2 separate regions of the Homo sapiens genome follow, and region 2 is linked to region 1. The links come from fine-mapping of genetic effects on gene expression. Tissue or cell type: whole blood. Region 1 holds a variant in brackets; the other region holds the start of a gene. All regions are shown on one strand. Distances are from middle to middle. Region 1 holds the start of MIR4708 (microRNA 4708). Region 2 holds the start of FUT8-AS1 (FUT8 antisense RNA 1).

Region 1 (8,676 bases):
AATTAATCCCTACCAAATTAAAATGGAAATCCCTAAATCCAAACCCAGTAATATCAGGACCTGTATTCCTTGGGTAGTACCATAAATTGATGTAACCAATTAGGAAAGTAATTTTAAGTCCTAAAAATATTTATGCCCTTTGACCTAATAAATCTCTTTGGAGAATGAATCGAGAGCAGAGCAGCAGAAGCCTAAAGCCATTGCCAAAACTCACAGTTTCATCCTTTCATGCTTTCCCTGAATTAGGCCTTCCCAGACCCTATGCCTGTGCTGTTCAATACAGTAGCCACTGTCCACATGCACCCCTCTTTCCTCCACAAGGTAATAAACTCCATAAGAGGTACCCTGTCAATCTTGTTTCCTGCAGAATACTAGATCTTAGAACAGTGCCTGGCACACAGTAGGCGTCAACAAATACTTAGTGAATGAATTTATGAATGAATGTCAAGCTATTCCACCAATCCTCCCCAAATACGCTTTGAGCTTTCTTGTCTCCAAGAAAGTCTTGCCTCAAAGTGTTTGTTTTTGCCCTCTTCTAACCAGAATCTTTATTGCTTATCTAAAACGATGTACTTTGAGCTTCAAGTAGAAACTGCCCAACTCAAAAGCATTTCATGATAAGATTTTTTTTTTAATCTTACAAAAGAAATTCAGGGCCGGGCACGGTGGCTCACGCCTGTAATCCCAGCACTTTGGGAGGCTGAGGTGGGCAGATCACGAGGTCAGGAGATGGAGACCATCCTGGCTAACATGGTGAAACCCCATCTCTACTAAAAATACAAAAAATTAGCTGGGCATGGGGGCAGGCGCCTGTAGACCCAGCTACTTGGGAGGCTGAGGCAGGAGAATGGCGTGAACCCGGGAGGCAGAGCTTGCAGTGAGCCAAGATCACACCACTGCACTCCAGCCTGGGCGACAGAGCAAGACTCTGTCTCAAAAAAAAAAAAAAAAAATTCAGAAGTTGTGCAGTTCCAGGGTTGGGTAATTCCATAGCTCAGCAATGTTCTCAAGGAACCATGCTTGTCCACCTTTTCTCTCTGCCACTCTGCAGCTGTTGCCTTTACCTTCCTCTTTATGTTTGCAAGATGGCAATAGCAGTTCAAGCTCTATGTCCTTAACAACATCTCAAGGCCAGAGTACCTTGCTTCCTTTTGAAGACTTAGAGATTTTCCCAGACGTCCCTTCTGCAGTTTCCTTTTATGTTCCATTGTCCAGAACTATAGCATATGCCTTATTTATTTTATTTTATTTTATTTTATTTATTTTGAGACAGGGTCTCACTCTGTGGTCCAGGCTAGAGTGCAGTGGCTCAATCATGGCTCACTGCAGTGTCAAACACCTGAGCTCAAGCAATTCTCCCACCTCAGCCTCCTGAGTAGTTGGGACTAAAGGTACGCACCACCGTGCCCTGCTAATTTTATTTTTTATTTTTGTAGAGAGGAGGGCTCACTATATTGTCCAGGCTGGTCTCAAACTCCTGGACTCAAGCAATCCTCTCATCTTGGCTTCTCAAAGTATGGGAATTACAGGTATGAGCCACCATGCCCAGGCCAGTACATTCCCATTCTTAAACCAGCCCATTTCTAAACCAGTTACTGGCAAGAGTAGAAAATTTTCATGATTGGCCTAAAGAATCCAGATTCACCTTCCTTGGGCTGGCTGAGTCCCGCATCCCAGAGCTCCTGGTTGATATAACTGAAAGAAGTGGAACTAGGGTAGGAGGCTGCACTCCAGGAGATAAAATGGTCTCAAAATAAGCCCTTGAGACTTTTTATAAGTCACAAAATCCTACTAGTTTTTCAAAGTGCAGCTCAAATCTTGGGTCTTTCATTAATCTTTCCCTTATTATCTTAACCAGAAGCAGCCCATCCCTGCTATAAATTTAAAACCTTGAGTATCGGCCAAAAACACTGGAATCATTCCTGATTTCTCTCTTTATGTCATAAATCATAACCCTATATCTCATCTATCTTGTCTACTCTACCTTCATTATATATCAGAATCTAATCTCATCTCACCACCCTTAGTCTCTTCTCTCTGGTCCAAGCCACCATCATCTTCATCTCATCCCGGATTATTGCAGCACCCTTCTCACTGGCCTCACACTTCTCCTTGTGCACTCTTGGAGTCCATGCTCAGAGTGATCCTTCCAAGGTGTGAGTCCAATCATGTCACTGCTCTACTCAAAGCCCTCCAATGGCTTCAAAACAAAATCTAAAGTCCTTACCACCACTTGCAGGGTCCTCAGTGATCCACTCTGTCACCTCTCTCATGTCCTCTCCTGCCCACAGTCTCCTGCTCACTACTTTCCAGCTACACTGGCCTGCTTGTTCTTAGAACTCACCAAGCACACTCCTTCCTGAGAGCCTTCGTGCTTGCTGCTCGCCTTGCTTAGAAAATTCTTCACAGACTCAGATGACTCACTCCCTCCTTCTTCAGATTTTGACTCAAATGTCTCCTTACCAGAGAGGTCTTCTCTGATCTCCCATCTAAAAAACCACATTCTCTTAACCATGTCACTCTACCCTCCTTAATCTGCTTCATTTTCCTTCAAAGTACTTCCCAGAAGCTGGTGTATTATACATATTTATTTGCTGACACTCATCTTGGCCTCTCAAAGTATGTCTTGTCTCATTAGAACATAAGATCTAGGGGGTGGGGGAATAGGGGAGGGATAGCATTAGGAGAAATACCTAATGTAGATGACGGGTTGATGGGTGCAGCAAACCACCATGGCATGTATATACCTATGTAACAAAGCTGCATGTTGTGCACATTTATTCCAGAACCTAAAAATATATATATACATATATACACATATATACGTGTGTTCCTTATACATATATATATATAAGGAACATAAGATCCATAAAGCCAGGGGTTTTATCTGTTTTGCTCCCTGTTTTTTGAGACAGCCAAGTGTAAAGGGGTCCCCTGAGAAACTCCGACTGGCCTGCGCACTGGGAGAACAGGGTGGAGCTGCAGAAGTTCACACCCTTTGCAGCAGGAAGGAGCCTGGCCTCTCCTGATCCAGGGTAGTACATGGGATTCAATCAGTGAGGCAGGAAAAACCAGCAAGCAGGACTCTCACTTTGCTGAGAGTCCCTGTTTCCATTTATTTTCCTTTTTGCCCAATAAGTTCCATTCTTCTCACCCTTCAAAGTGTCTGCAAGCCTAATCTCTCATGGCTGTGTGACAAGAATCCGGCTTTTAGTTGAACTAAGGAGAAAGTCCTATAACACTTTAGCCTCAGAGCTTACAACAAAACATAATTAGTGCTCCATATATATTTGTTCAATACTTATGTATTCCCTTAATGTTTGTTATCTGTTGGGCATGGTCTCTAGCTGCTATCTTTACACACATCCTGTCTCTTCAACGGGAACATACGATTCTTAAAGGCCAGAGCTGAGTCTTAAAGCTCAAGGCCTTAACATAAAGAGGCCACTCCAAAGTGTATGTTGTTGACATTTGGAGGGAGGATACATTGGGGCAGTAACAGCTGTTGTTATGTTACCTACCCGCTCTTGGCAGGGCCCTGAGAAGCTGAGGTATGAGACACAACAGCATATTTAGGAGAGAGATGCCGCCTTGCTCCTTGAACAGGAGGAGCAAGGCGGCATCTCTCTGATACTAAAAGGAGAATACGGGAGCACCTTTCTTACCTACATTTCCCCTGGAACTAGTCTTTCCACTTGCAAGTTTGTTTACAATTCCACGTTCTTTGCAACTGAATGGGGCCTCACCCTCATTAATTGGTGGCAAAGGTCACTCCTTAACAGATGCTAAACAGAAGCAGAGCAAAGTTAAGGGTGGCTAAGGTCACACAGAGTCGTTGCTCAAATTTAGGAAGGAAACCCACCTAGTGTGAGGTGGGGCCCCAGGAGGGGCATCTGAGCCCCAAGAGAGCAGCTCTCTTTAGCCCCTGCTCTAGTTTCTTTGCAGTTCTCCTAAAGAAGTTCACCAGCAAGGCCATTTACCAGACACCAGGGAATCAGGCCACTTTCAAATGTTGATAGCATTACGCTTGCCAGAGGAGAAAGGGACAAGTGAGGAGACTGAAGACAGTGCTTTCAAGAAAAAGAAGAAAAAGATATTGAATGTGCACTCGCTAAGCCAAAAAAGCAAATGCCAGGAAGAACCGTGAGCCTTGTTTGAAGCCAAGTCTGCGCAGAAGAGTCCCAGGTGTAGGGAAGGAGGAGCTGAGGTGGTCTGAGGACGCACAGCAAATGCCCTGGGGGGTGGGGCGGGAGGAGAGAACATATTTTAAGCAACCTTAAAAGACTCGTTTTAGCATTCCGCAGGAAATGAAAAGCAGATGTGTTGGTTTGGAACTTGTTTACATATTTGGCCTCTGAGAAGCTTCCAGGACAGTTAGGACTGGAGAGAAGGGGTATTTTAGGCAAATGCTATAGTCTCCACTTGGAGAGAGTGGGGCCCTTCATTGG[C/T]TCACCTGCTTCCTGAGAAGCAAGCATTTAGGCTGAAAGACCATCATTGTCCCTAAGACAGGTCTGGCTAGAATAAACCAGGATTTGATATACAGAACTGGTCTCCTTGTACCTTCTTACAGAAACTAAGGGTTGTTGCACCTCCTCTCTTGCTTTCAAGTCACACCCACTGGGCAGAGAAGTGAAATCAGAGGCCTGGACATTGGGAGGATGATGGGATGGTTCACACCAAAGGTCCTGAGATTTGCAGAAGGCTTGTTAGAATACAGATTACTGGGTCTCACCAGCTCAGCCGAGCTAAGATGAGGCCAGTGGCTACACACTGGAATCATCTGGAGATTAAAATAGACTGATAGCTGAGCCCTGTTCCCACAGATTCTGATATTAATTGGTCTGGGGTGTGACTTAGGCATTTTTTAAAAATTATTTTTAATATATAATAGAGAGGGGGTCTTACCATGTTGCCTAGCTGGTCTCAAACTCCTGGCCTCAAGCAGTCCTCCTGACTCAGCCTCCCAAAGAGCTGGGATTATAGGCGTGAGCAACCATGCCCAGCTGACTTGGGCATTGTTTAAAGCTCTCCAGATAATTATAAGGTATAGCCAAGGTTGAGAACCATTGAACTATTTATCTTTTACCTGCTCTCATCATTCCATCCCTAGATTAACTTCAATTTACCTTCATAACATGTTCACAAGGTGGTTAGGACCACAGGAGACCGTGGGATCTAAATTAGGCATAAACCTGGATTTAGAGAAGGGGCTAAAAGAATATTGCTCTCAGAGACATCAACTATCAAAAAATCTATGTAAATGCAGGCAATTCCCCTTTTTTGTAGTATGTCCAGGAAATGGCGCTCCTTAAAAGATATTTTTTAGTTGCTAAGGGACAGGAAAAGTAGCAATCTTTAACACTTATTGAGCATTTATTATGTGCCAAGTACTCTTCCAAGTGCTTTCATTTTAAATTAATTTAATTTCCACAACAGCTCAATGATGTTGGAGCTGTTATTTTCCCCATTTAGCAAATGAGGAAACTGAGATACTAGGAGATGAACTAATTTGTCCAAAATCACACAATTAGTCAGTGGTAGAGCTGGCTTTCAAATTTTGGTGTGCCTCTGAATTACGGAGACTACGGAGACTCCGCTGAGAAAGAAAAATAGCTCAGATCAGTCTGAGCTATGTGAAGTATACAAAATTTATCAAGCCTGGAGAGACAGGAGTATGGGACTTCAGTCACATCTCTGCGCCCATGTCCAGGGCAACTGTGTAAAGGCATTTTGTTCCTGCTTAACTGCCTTACCCATTATCTTCATGTTGGAATTTGTGATGCAAAGAATAACACATACCCAATCAATAGCTTATGTTATTTTAGTATAAATTCTTGGTAAACAATTTAGGAGCTGCCTCTTCTTTATTCCTTAAAAATCCTCTTGTAGCTATTTCTAATCAGAGTGTGGGTTTAGGGCAACTTGAATCTATGCTCTTGGGTGGCCACCCTCAAGCTTTGAGCTTGAATAAACTTGAAGCCATCTTCACCATGTTAACAAGAATTCTGGACAGAAATATAGTTATGATTAAGCATTAATTAGGCTGCACTGTGGCTCACTTCCTTGTAACAACAGGAAGTGAAAGTTGTGGAGTACTAGATCCTGACCACTTGCATCCTCATTGTTCCTACAGATAGTATTTCTGTCTGAGGTTAGAATCATCAGGCCTCTGATTAAGATAGATAGAATCTCTGACATTAGAATCATAAGGCTTTTGTTTAAGAATTGCTTAAGATGTTTTTCAGATCCCAAATTTGAGCTGATGCCAACAAGTTTGAAGACCCCCAGAGGAGAGCAGAATCAGCATGAGAATATAGTTTCTTCATCTCCCTGTTCTATGACTTCATCCTGCACCCTTGGGCCAAGCAAAGATCTCCACACTTCAGCCCACTCCAAAATCACTAAAAATTCTAGACCCAAATTCCTTGGAGAGACTGATTTGAGGTTTCCTCCCATCACATTCAGCTGCCCTACAATTAAACCTCTTTCTCTCTTGCAACTAGGTGTTTCAGCGTATTGACTTGCTATGCACATTGGGCAATGAAACGATTATGGTTACAAACTCTATATTTAATCATCTCTTCAGAATCTCATTAATTTAGGTTGTGAACCCCAAATATCTGAGACAGGTCTCAATTTAGAAACTTTATTTTTTCAAGGTTAAGGATGCACCCGTGACACAGCCTCAGGAAGTCCCATGACATGTGCCCAAGGTGGTCGGGGCACAGCTTGGTTTCATACATTTTAGGAAGACATAAGACGTCAATCAATATATGTAAGATGTACATTGGTTCAATCAGAAAGGTGGGACAACTTGAAGCAGGGAGGGGGCCTCCAGGTCATAGATAGACAAACATTCTTTTGAGTTTCCAATTACCCTTTCCAAAAGAAGCAATCAGATATGCATTTATCTCAGTGAGCAGAGGGATGACTTTGCGTTCTGTTTGTCCTTTGTCCAAAAGGAATTTCCTTGTAGACAAATTGTGAGGCAGGTATATAGCTTTTTTATCTTAGTAGCTATCTCCTTTAAGGAATAGAATGGGAGGCATGTTTGCCCTAAGCAGCTCCCAGCTTGACTTTTCTCTTTGGGGGGGTCCAAAGATTTATTTTCCTTTCACAAGGTTGACACTGTTCAAAATACTAATGACCAGGCTCTAACCGAGACCAACTGGATCAGGATCTCCTGGAGTGGATCTTTATCAAAATTATTATTATTATTATTATTATTATTATTATTATTATTATTGAGATGGAGGCTCACTCTGTCACCCAGGCTGGAGCGCAGTGGCGTGATCTCAGCTCACTGCAACCCTCCACCTCTTGGGTTCAAGCGATTGTCCTGCCTCAGCCTCCTGAGTAGCTGGGATGACAGGCACGCACCACCATACCCGGCTAATTTTTGTATTTTAGTGGAGACAGGGTTTCACCATGTTGGCCAAGCTGGTCTCAAACTCCTGACCTCAAGTGATCAACCTGCCTTGGCCTCCCAAAGTGCTGGGATTACAGGCGAGAACCTGGCATATCAAAATTATTTTTAACAAATCTCCTAGAGAGTTAGTTGTTGGACAAGATATGAGGCCACTGTTGGGGGTTATTTATTTATTTAGAGACAAGATCCCTCTGTTACCCAGGCTGGATTGTAGTGGCACTGTCATGGCTCACTGCAGCCTCAACTTCCTGGGCTCAAGTGATCCTTCTGCCACAGCCTCCCAAGTAGCTAGGACTACATGTACACACCACCATGCCCAGCTGATTTTTTTGTTTTTTGTAGAGACAGAGTCTCACCATGTTGCCCAGACTGGTCTAGAACTCCTGGCCTCAAGTGATTCTGCCTTGGCCTCCCAAATTTCTGGGATTACAGGCTTGAGCCACTGTGCCCAGCCTCACTGTTGGGGTTTAAAATGAAGACTTTGGAATCAGGTTATCCTAGGTTCATTATTTTGCCACCACTTACAACTGGAATCTTTTAACAAATTCCCCATTCTCCCTTTGAATTTTCATTTCCTCATCTGCGTTGGAATGATTATACTTAGTTCTTGAGATTGTTCTGAAGATTACATGGGTTTAAGGTACTTAGCATAAAAATAGAGGCTGGAACATTGCAACTCCAGAAGGTATTTTGAGACATTAAACAGGTCCTCCCTTCTACCATCAACAAAACACACTTCACCACATTCTACTGCTCTGCAGACCCAGGCATGCCCTGCCCCAGGGAAAAGTGAGGTTATCATAGCTGGAATGCCAAGAAAAAGAAAGTCAGTGGTTAACTTTTGAGATTCAAATGAGATTGCTGAACACAAGACCTAGATTTGAGAGAAAATACTTTTTGAGCATTCAGGAACTCTTTGGCCCTAAATCGTTATTTTGAACCAAATAAGAACGGTCTGAAAGAACTCTCCCCACTCCTCCATGCAAGATTACCAGCCCCTAGATACTTTCGTAGGGTTATCTAGACTGGAGAGATGTGTGGTCTCCAAGGAAGGCCCCTATCATCTTCCCAGGGTGAATTATTTTAGCAGAGAGGGAACTCTGGCTGGCAAGTAGAACACAAGATAAGCCTTGAGGAAACTAAGAATAGAGGAAATTTGTGTCTACTTCCTATCTAGGGAGGGCAGCTGACCCCACACATTTGCTTATGCTACAGTGATATGGGGTCAACAGAGCACAGATGGTTGT
Region 2 (8,676 bases), 78 kb before region 1:
TGAAGACCAGAAGTTGATATCTCCTTTGAAAAGTATCAACAGAAGCAGCATTGATGCAGGGTACAAAAGTACTATAATAAAGCTGGCTGTGGTAGCACATGCCTATAGTCCCAGCTACTCAAGAGACTGAGGTAGGAGGATTGCTTGAGCCCAGGAGTTCAAGGCCAACCTGGACAAAACAGCAAGATCACATCTCTTTGGGGGAAAAAAAAAAAAAGGTACCATAATAGTAATACTTTTAGTTTCAGAGTTGTTTAAAAATCTTAATTTTATGTTTAGTAAAGTAACTTATTCAAGTTTTTTTAAATATTTACTCTTATGATTGTAAAACTTTCTTTTATATTTATCAATTTGCTATAATATGAAATGATGTATCCACCATTTAACTAAATCAAGAGATTTATTAAATGCAGTTTATCATAAATCAAAAATAACCATTAATGAAATGGAAGAATCTATTTACTTTATCAGCATTGAGATTCTATTTACATAATGAAGAGCTATGGATAATAAACAGCCCAAACACTATCTGCAAAAAAACCAATATTCCAATGATTTTAATATACATATAACTATCAGTTTCTAGGCTTGGATTTAAAGAATATGTGAATGGAAAGAAGTAAATTAACATACTAATTTATTACAGCTTAGAAACCTAAATGAAATGCCACAGGCCACAAAACAACTGCTTCGTATTCAAAGGCACACATTCAATTTGGTAGATCAGCTGGACGCACTGCATTATACTGCAGGAGATAAGGGTTAAGTGACCTGGGGATATTGTTCTCCAGATGTCTAAAAGGTCCATTTTTTTATTGGAATTATCTCTACTTTAAAAAAAAAAAAAAAAGGAATTATATCTACTTTTGATAAATACCTAGCTTACCACACAATTAATACCTTCGCCCATATAAGATTCTACTTGAAGCTTCGTTTTTGAAATTTTAGGATTGTAGCTATTATAAAAACAAAATTTAAGAACACACAACATGTACAATGGGTCAAGAATACATGCCTTAGATTCTGATGAACAGGACAAGAAGGTTAAGAAAATACTATAACATACTCTAAGTTTGGGGGTACATTTTAGAGATTTTTAAGTGAGAAATCCAATAAATCTTTAAGCATTTAGCTTTCCATTATTGCAGCGCATGAAAAGACTTTTTTAAACTAATTTGTAATACACAATATATTCACTCCACAAATAACTATGTACATATATATGCCCACATCAATTTCCTACTCTTTTAATTAAAAATTTATGTTTCTTTTGGTCATAAAAATCTGGTTTTGGGTGTTTTAAAAGTTCAAACAGCTATTAAGCTATACTTTGCTTTGGCACTAGCTCCCCCTCCAGACCAATGTACTAATATAACAGCATTTTTAAAAATAATAAGTTAACAGTTTTTTCCAATCCACTGGCAAATTTTAAGATTCACCACTTTTAAGGACACTCCAATTGCGTAAAAATAACTGGTAAGAATTTGCAACAAAACAATGCAGGATGTAATCAGAATTAGTTTTGTTTTGTTTTTTTCGATTCCATACATCTTAAACAGAACTGATTTGTAGGAAAACAACTTCAGGTGACTTTTTAAATTCAAAAATATCCTCAAAATATAACCTATATAAGGCCGTACTTTATGGAAATTATTTTGAATCACTATCCTATTACACAAGACACTCTTCAAGTTAACTCACAACTTGACCAAAGATACATTTTTGCATCTGTTTCTGCAATCTATGCAAGTTTCATTCCAGCTGTTCAGCTCTTGAATTCAAATAGAATTCTCAATTTATAAGGCAGCAAAAAGAAAATCCATGTCTTGGAACTACCTTTGTACGTGTCTTATAGCCTATTCATCTCTAACTCCCTGCATTTTTTACACACTAAACCTGTGAAATCACAATTACAAATGCTTGAATTCCCACCTTTTCAATACTACTGTAGTATTTACAAATCAAGTAATTAAGATTTTCTATACACATACCAGATTTCACAAGGACAGCAAGGTACAGGGCCTTATTATTTGGCATAGGGTTTTAAGATGTTTTTACAGTTATTTTAAAGAGCAGAGACTACAACTCCATTATTTCTCATATATCTGATATACTGTAGTGCTTAAATAATAATTTCTCTCCTAAAATACTTTCTATATGATGCACCTATTTAAAGAATTAGTCATAAAACATAGAATGTAAATTTAATCAAGAAAATAAACATGCACCTAACCGCCGGAATAACAAGAAAAAAAAAATCTATAATGAAACCTGCCTACAGTTTTCATAGAGGCAAGCCAGTTAAGTCAGTTACTTGAGATGCGTTTAACTCTAAACTGACACAAAACTTGTGTTGAATTTGTTCCGCAAAACCTTGAAATTTGGGGTTATGTACTACAGAATTTGGCTTTTCTGGGTCCACCTTCCTGAGTGGGTTTAAATAAACTGTGAATAATTAAAACATAGGAAGGAAAAAAACACCACCTGTCCGTGCCTTTAACCAAGGCCTCAATCTATATATTATATGGCAAAATGCTAAAATAAAAGCTCATCCGGGACAAACCCTAAGCATGACACTGCCACTTAAGAAATACACTGCGTCTCTGAAGATTGCAATCCCCACTGTGAAGAAAGAACAGGTGCTGCACCCGACAACCCACTCAATCCTGCAGGACAAACCTCCTAGAACTGATAAATATGGACTCATTTAACCTTCCCAAATAAGTTGATACTCAAAAGCCGCCAGCTCGTCATTTGCACATCAAAAGGGAGTACAGCTGCACTCAAGCCTTTAACTGCCCTGCATCAGTCCCTCGCGGATCTTTGTGAGGGTCCACTCCCTGCTTTCTAGCCCGAGCAGCACTCAGAAAGAGCCCATAACGCACGGGCATCTTCCTCCCCACAAACCGCGACTCCAGGGACCGAGCTGCTGACGAAGGGAAGGTAGGTGTGGAGGGGAAACGACGGACACCTCCCACCCCCGCCCCCAACCCTTCTCCTTCCCTAGGCTTTGGCCCCTGCCCTAGGCAAGGATGCGCGACGCCGAGGGCAGCAGCGGCGCAGCTCCGCGTCCCGGCTGGAGAGGCGGGCGCCCCTCACCCTCTGCCCGCGCCCCCGGGGCTGCGCCAAGGCATCCGCCAGAGCGTCCCGGGGGCTCCCTCCCCACTTTTCCGAGAGCCGCTGGTTAACCGGCAGCAGTTGCAGCAACAGGCCCGGGTGAACGAGCAGGGACAGCCGCGGAGCCTCCTCAGATCCCGCGCGCAGCCCAGCCCAAGACCCCGAGGCGCGCGGGGCCCGGCTCCCAAAACGCCCCCTTACCCCAGGCGGGAGCAGAGGCGGTCTCCGCCGCTCCCCGTCGCAGCTGCCAAAGCCACAGCCCTCAGCCGCAGCTGCCCCACGATGGGGGAGTGGGAAGGGTGGCTGAGTGGAGGATGCTACTCCCGACCGAACGGAGAGGAAGAAACGGAAACAGGAACCGCCGCCGCCGCTTAACGGAGCCTTCGGCGCCACTGACTGAGGCAGAGCGCGAGGCGGCGCGAGCCGGGCAGTCGCTGACAGCGCGAGACCGAGAGCGAGCTGGGTCCAGGGCGCGCGACCCTGAGCAGTGCCGGCCCCATTCCGCGGGGAGACGAAGGGACGGGTCGGCTGGGGCCAGGCGGCGGGGGTGGGATGGGGAGGGGGCCTGGAGAGGAGGGAACCGGCTGCTCGGGTCGGCCGGAGATAACGCGCGCACGCGCCGGAGCGGCTCTGACAACGAGCGCAGGCGGGGAAGCCTCGGCCAGCGCCGGCGTGCGCGCGCGAATGGGGGAGCGCGCCCCTCGGCGTTCCTGGCTTCTGGGAGAGGGCGCGCATGCGCCGGCCGCTGCCACCTACGGCGACCCTGGCATGTGCCAGGGATTCTCCCCGCCCCCTTCCTCGCTGCGCCGGTGGAGAGCGTAGCAGCAGCATCCACCGCCTAGCAGAGCCGCGGGCCACAGCGGGACGGCACAGTTCCAGCAGGGCAGCGGCTGCGCACGCCGGCTCCGGCTCGCACACAGGCGTAGGCCGCCCTCTACCGCCTGAAGGCCGGAGGCTGAGCGGGGCGCGAGCGGATCCTGGATCCCGGGAGGAGACTCGCCTCCAGAGAATGCTGTGCTCCCTACAGCGCCGGGAATGGACCGGCCCGTGCCAGCTCAGTCGGCGGCCCTAGGGGGCACCCGCACTAGAGGTTTTGAAGCTGGCTCCTTGCTACTTTTAGGGGTGCGCGCTGCTGCTGCTCAGCCCCTGCAGCCCGCATTTGGCCGCTTGACTGCTGCTTCCAGCGCGATCCTACAATGGCATCGCTCCCCCAGGAGACTCAGCGAAGCCCTACTTTATCTTGTAAGAGCTGTTTCCACATTCACTCGAAGAGAAAGACCCCCCCCACGAGGGCCTGAGTTCGATGCCCGGCCTCTCCCGACCCGCGGCTGCGACAGCCCCTCTGAGGCGGAAGTTTATTTAGTACGGGAAAGAGAACAGCACGGGGAGAGGGGAGAGGCTTTGCCCTAGGATGCGTCCTACCCGCTCGGACTCGGAAAATTCCCGGCGCCCGCGATGCAGAGCAGTGGACCGAAGGGCTGCCCCAGAGCAGCCCAGACCGCCAGCTGAGCGGGAGGACCGGAGCGCGCCGCCCCAGCACACAAAGTAGTCGCGGGACGAGGGGTGCCGCCGAGGCCAATCAGAGCTGCGCGCCGCGTGAGTGGAGTGCGAGCCGGCCAATCAGAGGGCCGGAAGATGAGCTTCCCGTTCCAAACTCTTCCCTGTAGCCTTGGGACCCAGATCCCAAGCCTGGGGCGCTTTACGGTGGGAGAGCGAAATGGTGCCCTTAAGACAAGAATCATTTCTCTAGGCTTGGGCATTTTAAAGTACATACCGGGGATACTTATCCCAAAGCAAGTAGCGGCGGCCTTTTAGATGTTAAATATTAAAAGATCACAGAAAGGAGATTTAAGAGGCAGTGGCCTGTCAAGGTTGCAATCTGCCTAATATTCATAAATTCACATATTTATTGAGACCTTCTTATGTACCAGGAACTCTATCACAGATACACAAATAAGGTACTGCTGATTCAAAAGAAAATCCCTTGTCCTCAAGCAGCTCAGGTTGTGAGGGAGGCTTTCCTAGACCTTGAGACTCGTATTTATTGTCAGCTCTTTAAACAAAAAGCACTCTATGAAGTGCTGTACTTTACAGTCGTTTTTATGATTATCTCCCTGTGAGAAAAGAAAATTGAAAGGAAAGTAGAGTGACTTGTCCAAGATCACACAGAAGATGTACTAGCAGAGCCAGAATTATGTTCTAGCTCAGTTTGGGTGTCATCATTCAATAAAATAATTCAATAACAATTTGTAAATGCATGGATGCTCTCTCCCATGAGATTTCTGTACTAAACGTATAAGCAGGACAAAATTCTGGTATAAAAGTGACACACTTTGGTTGTTGGAAATGAACACAAATTTTAGACTTATGTGGGATTAAAGGTAAAAATCTTACCAGTCATACTTTAGATAATTTTTAGAAGTCAGAGGTGGGGTGGATATTTACTTCTTAGTTTAAACACAGCATTTTAAAAATATTTTAACAAGCAAGCGTAACTTTTTTTTTTTAAGATAGAAGAAGCAGGAAGGATCACTTAAGCCCAAGAGTTCCAGGCTGCAGTGCCACATCGTGCCTGTCAGTAGCCACTTCAGCCTGGGCAACATAGCAAGACCCTCATGTCTAAAATTAAAAATAAAATTTAAAAAAAAGAACTACTTCTAGTTGGTTAATAATCATGATAGTTTACACTGTATAATACTTTGAGATACCCAAGTACAAAGCTTTACATTTGCCTAAAAATTCCATTTTTGTCTGGTGTTCCATTTTTACTTCCAAAATCCTAGGAATTAAAGCACTTATTTTCCCTACCTCCTTCCAACTGAAAAAAAAAAAAAAAAAAACCTGTCCTAGGAATGTTTTGCCCAGGATTTGGTGCATTTGTATAGAACAGTATAATATACGTTAAAATAACAAATAACTTTGGTATCTCTTGAATACACTCAGAAACTAATTCTTCAGTGGTTTTGAAGTCTGCTTTGTTGAATCAATGTGCTTCTCCACCTGTGATGGAACATTATTATCAAAACCCTTTCCAAGGCAGGCTCAGGATTTAGCTGCCATCCCAAAACTGGAGGTCTCTGTCAAACAACTGATATTTGAGAACAAGTCTTTACACATTAAGTTCCAAGCCAATCATGAATTTCCAGGAAATTCACTTATGAAAGGGAATTTTATACCCTGCCTCTTCTCAGTGTGGATAACAGTCCCAGCTTTTAAAAAATACATTTATTTTACTCTCTCCAGACAAGAAAATTCCTAGAACTCAGTCGTTCTCTTGCCAGGTTAAATTCTGAGAGAGAAGGAATCCCCCAAAAGGTTCTAAACATCACTGGCCATCAGAAAGTATCTGTGTCAAAAGCATTTTTCCACAAGCTGCAGGTCCCACCCTGTTGCTGCGCTCTCTCATTCTCTTCTCCCAACTGCTTGCCTCTGCTGCTCATCACTGCCAGTTTGTAATAGTTGCTTAAGTAAGTACAGGTACTCCACCTCTTACTCCACCCCTCCCTCACCAAACTAGGTTTTGGACCCATCTTTGCTTATCCCAAAAGTTAAAGACAAGTTCTGTTCAACAAAAGATTAGACAGAACAATCGTTATGATCTGTTATACAACAAGTAACAGGGCCTTGTCAGTGCATTGTTTTCTTGTATATAGCCTCGGTCAAATTCTTAACCATCAGCTAGAGCTATGGGGACTCGGGTGTCCCGGGGCAAGAAGGAGTCAACCCTTAGACTATGGAAAAGATCAAAATGAAAGTTAAAGTGAGTACATGAGTGGCCATTTTATTGAGAGATTAGCTAGATCAAAGTTAATGAACGTGAATGCTATCACATTTCCTAAGTTGTGAACATTCATGTAGAAACTGGTTTGAAATTTACTACCATTTTATTATGACTGTAATAAAAATAATAGCCAAAGTGTAATAGTGCTGAGCACCAGGCCTCATGCAAAACTCTTTACCTCCACCATTTAATTCTCAAATCAAACCTTTGAGGTGGATCCTGTTATTACGGTGGGGAGATCTGTGGAGTTCCAGCAAGGGGTTGAGGCACTCAGAAGGCTTAGCATAAGCTACTTACCAAATAGTTTAGAAATTTTTCTATCTCTACCAACGTGTACCAACTGACTGTCAGCCATGGAAGCATTCTGAATAATTGTTAATTGTTCTCGTTGTTTTATAATTGTTGCTCTAGCTACATTTCACTTACAGGATCCGATTTTCCAGGAAGTCATCCAAAGGGCAGCATTGTTATTGCCAAGAGCAAGAAGGGGTGACCTTGAGATAATCATTTTACCCATCTGGGCCTCAGTTTTCTCATTTGTAAAATAAAAGGGTTGGACTAGGTAAGTTTTAGTTGTTCGTCAGTTCTAAAACTATAAATCTAGCCAACTTGACACACCATTGACAATAACTACAAAAATGAAATATAGGGAAAAAAAGTCTATATTTTCATTTTTATTTTTTAGAGACAAGGTCGCAGAATGTTGCCAAGGCTCGTCTTGAACTCCTGGCCTCAAGCTGTACTCTTGCCTCAGCCTCCTGAGTAGCTAAGAATCTATATTTTCAAATTCAATGTGTTTTAAGTCACTTTTGAGCCAGCTCCTTAAACAAACTCTATACCTACTCATTAAAAAGCCAGAGCAAATCTTTCCCATTACAAGAGTAAATGAAGTGATTGATTTAAAGACTGATGAAACTAGCCAGACTATCCCTCCCTATGACTTGCCTCCATGGCTGAAATTTCTGTCTTCTCCACTGGGATAAAGCAGCATATAGTTCACACTATTGATTTCTAATTGAACATTCACTCCCGTCCTTCCTTATTAATAGGGCTGTTTATTTTTGTTTTCATCTGCCAATTCTTTAGGTAACCACCCAAAACTCCAACTACAGAAAGGCAACTCAATTAGCCAATAAATGGGTTCCCTAATATGGTAGGAGATTTATCATGCTTACTCTCTCTTTCCAGACATACAAAAAGATTATATTTTTCCACACCCACCCCCAGATACCCTCCTCCCCTTGCAGTTGGGCTGGACCATGTGACTGACTAGCTATAGCCACCAGTCTGTAGTGGGTTGTGGGCAGAAGTGGTATGTGTCAATTCCAGGTAGAACAGTTCATGGCCAGCGTAAGTCCTTACAGTGTTTACTCTTCTCCAGACTCAAGACCAGTATTATCTTGAAAGTATCGGTAAAGCCTCTCTCGGCTTAACTTCCAAAAAAAAGGACAAGGTAGAGCAGCCTGCCTCCCATTTTCATCTGGTTTTAATAAGAAATACACCTTTGTAGTTTAAGCCACTGAGATTTGGGGGCATTTTTCAATGCAGTATGACCTAGCATCTAGGTTATGCTAGACTAGAATATGCTAGAATTAGAATAGTCCTAGACTATTCTAATTGATACACTTGAAAACCATTAGGACCAGGATAAACTGGCCCAATCAGACTGAAGGAAAGGATTTTCAGTCCATATCTGGGGGAAGGAGTTCTCTCTTTCCTGCCAGATATGAGCAAGTCAACCTGTAACCCAGATTGCCATTGGCAGCAATCTTGCAAGA

The links.
Region 2: it holds the start of FUT8-AS1, and the variant in region 1 is fine-mapped to the expression of FUT8-AS1 in whole blood (TOPMed, PIP above 0.99).

What each region holds. Positions count from the first base shown.
Region 1 is chr14:65,330,079-65,338,754 of GRCh38, reverse strand. It overlaps MIR4708 (microRNA 4708), which reads left to right and starts at 3,572; the gene lies at 3,572-3,638. RefSeq lists enhancers at 2,324-2,473, 2,534-2,633, 7,587-8,197. The variant C/T (reference allele first, on the strand shown) is at 4,449.
Region 2 is chr14:65,407,857-65,416,532 of GRCh38, reverse strand. It overlaps FUT8-AS1 (FUT8 antisense RNA 1), which reads left to right and starts at 3,916. Exons shown (of 1, transcript NR_024334.1): 1 at 3,916-5,941. It overlaps FUT8 (fucosyltransferase 8), which reads right to left and starts at 3,803. Exons shown (of 11, transcript NM_001371533.1): 1 at 3,319-3,803. RefSeq lists enhancers at 2,498-3,062, 4,305-4,624 and silencers at 2,985-3,174, 3,185-3,304, 3,605-3,764.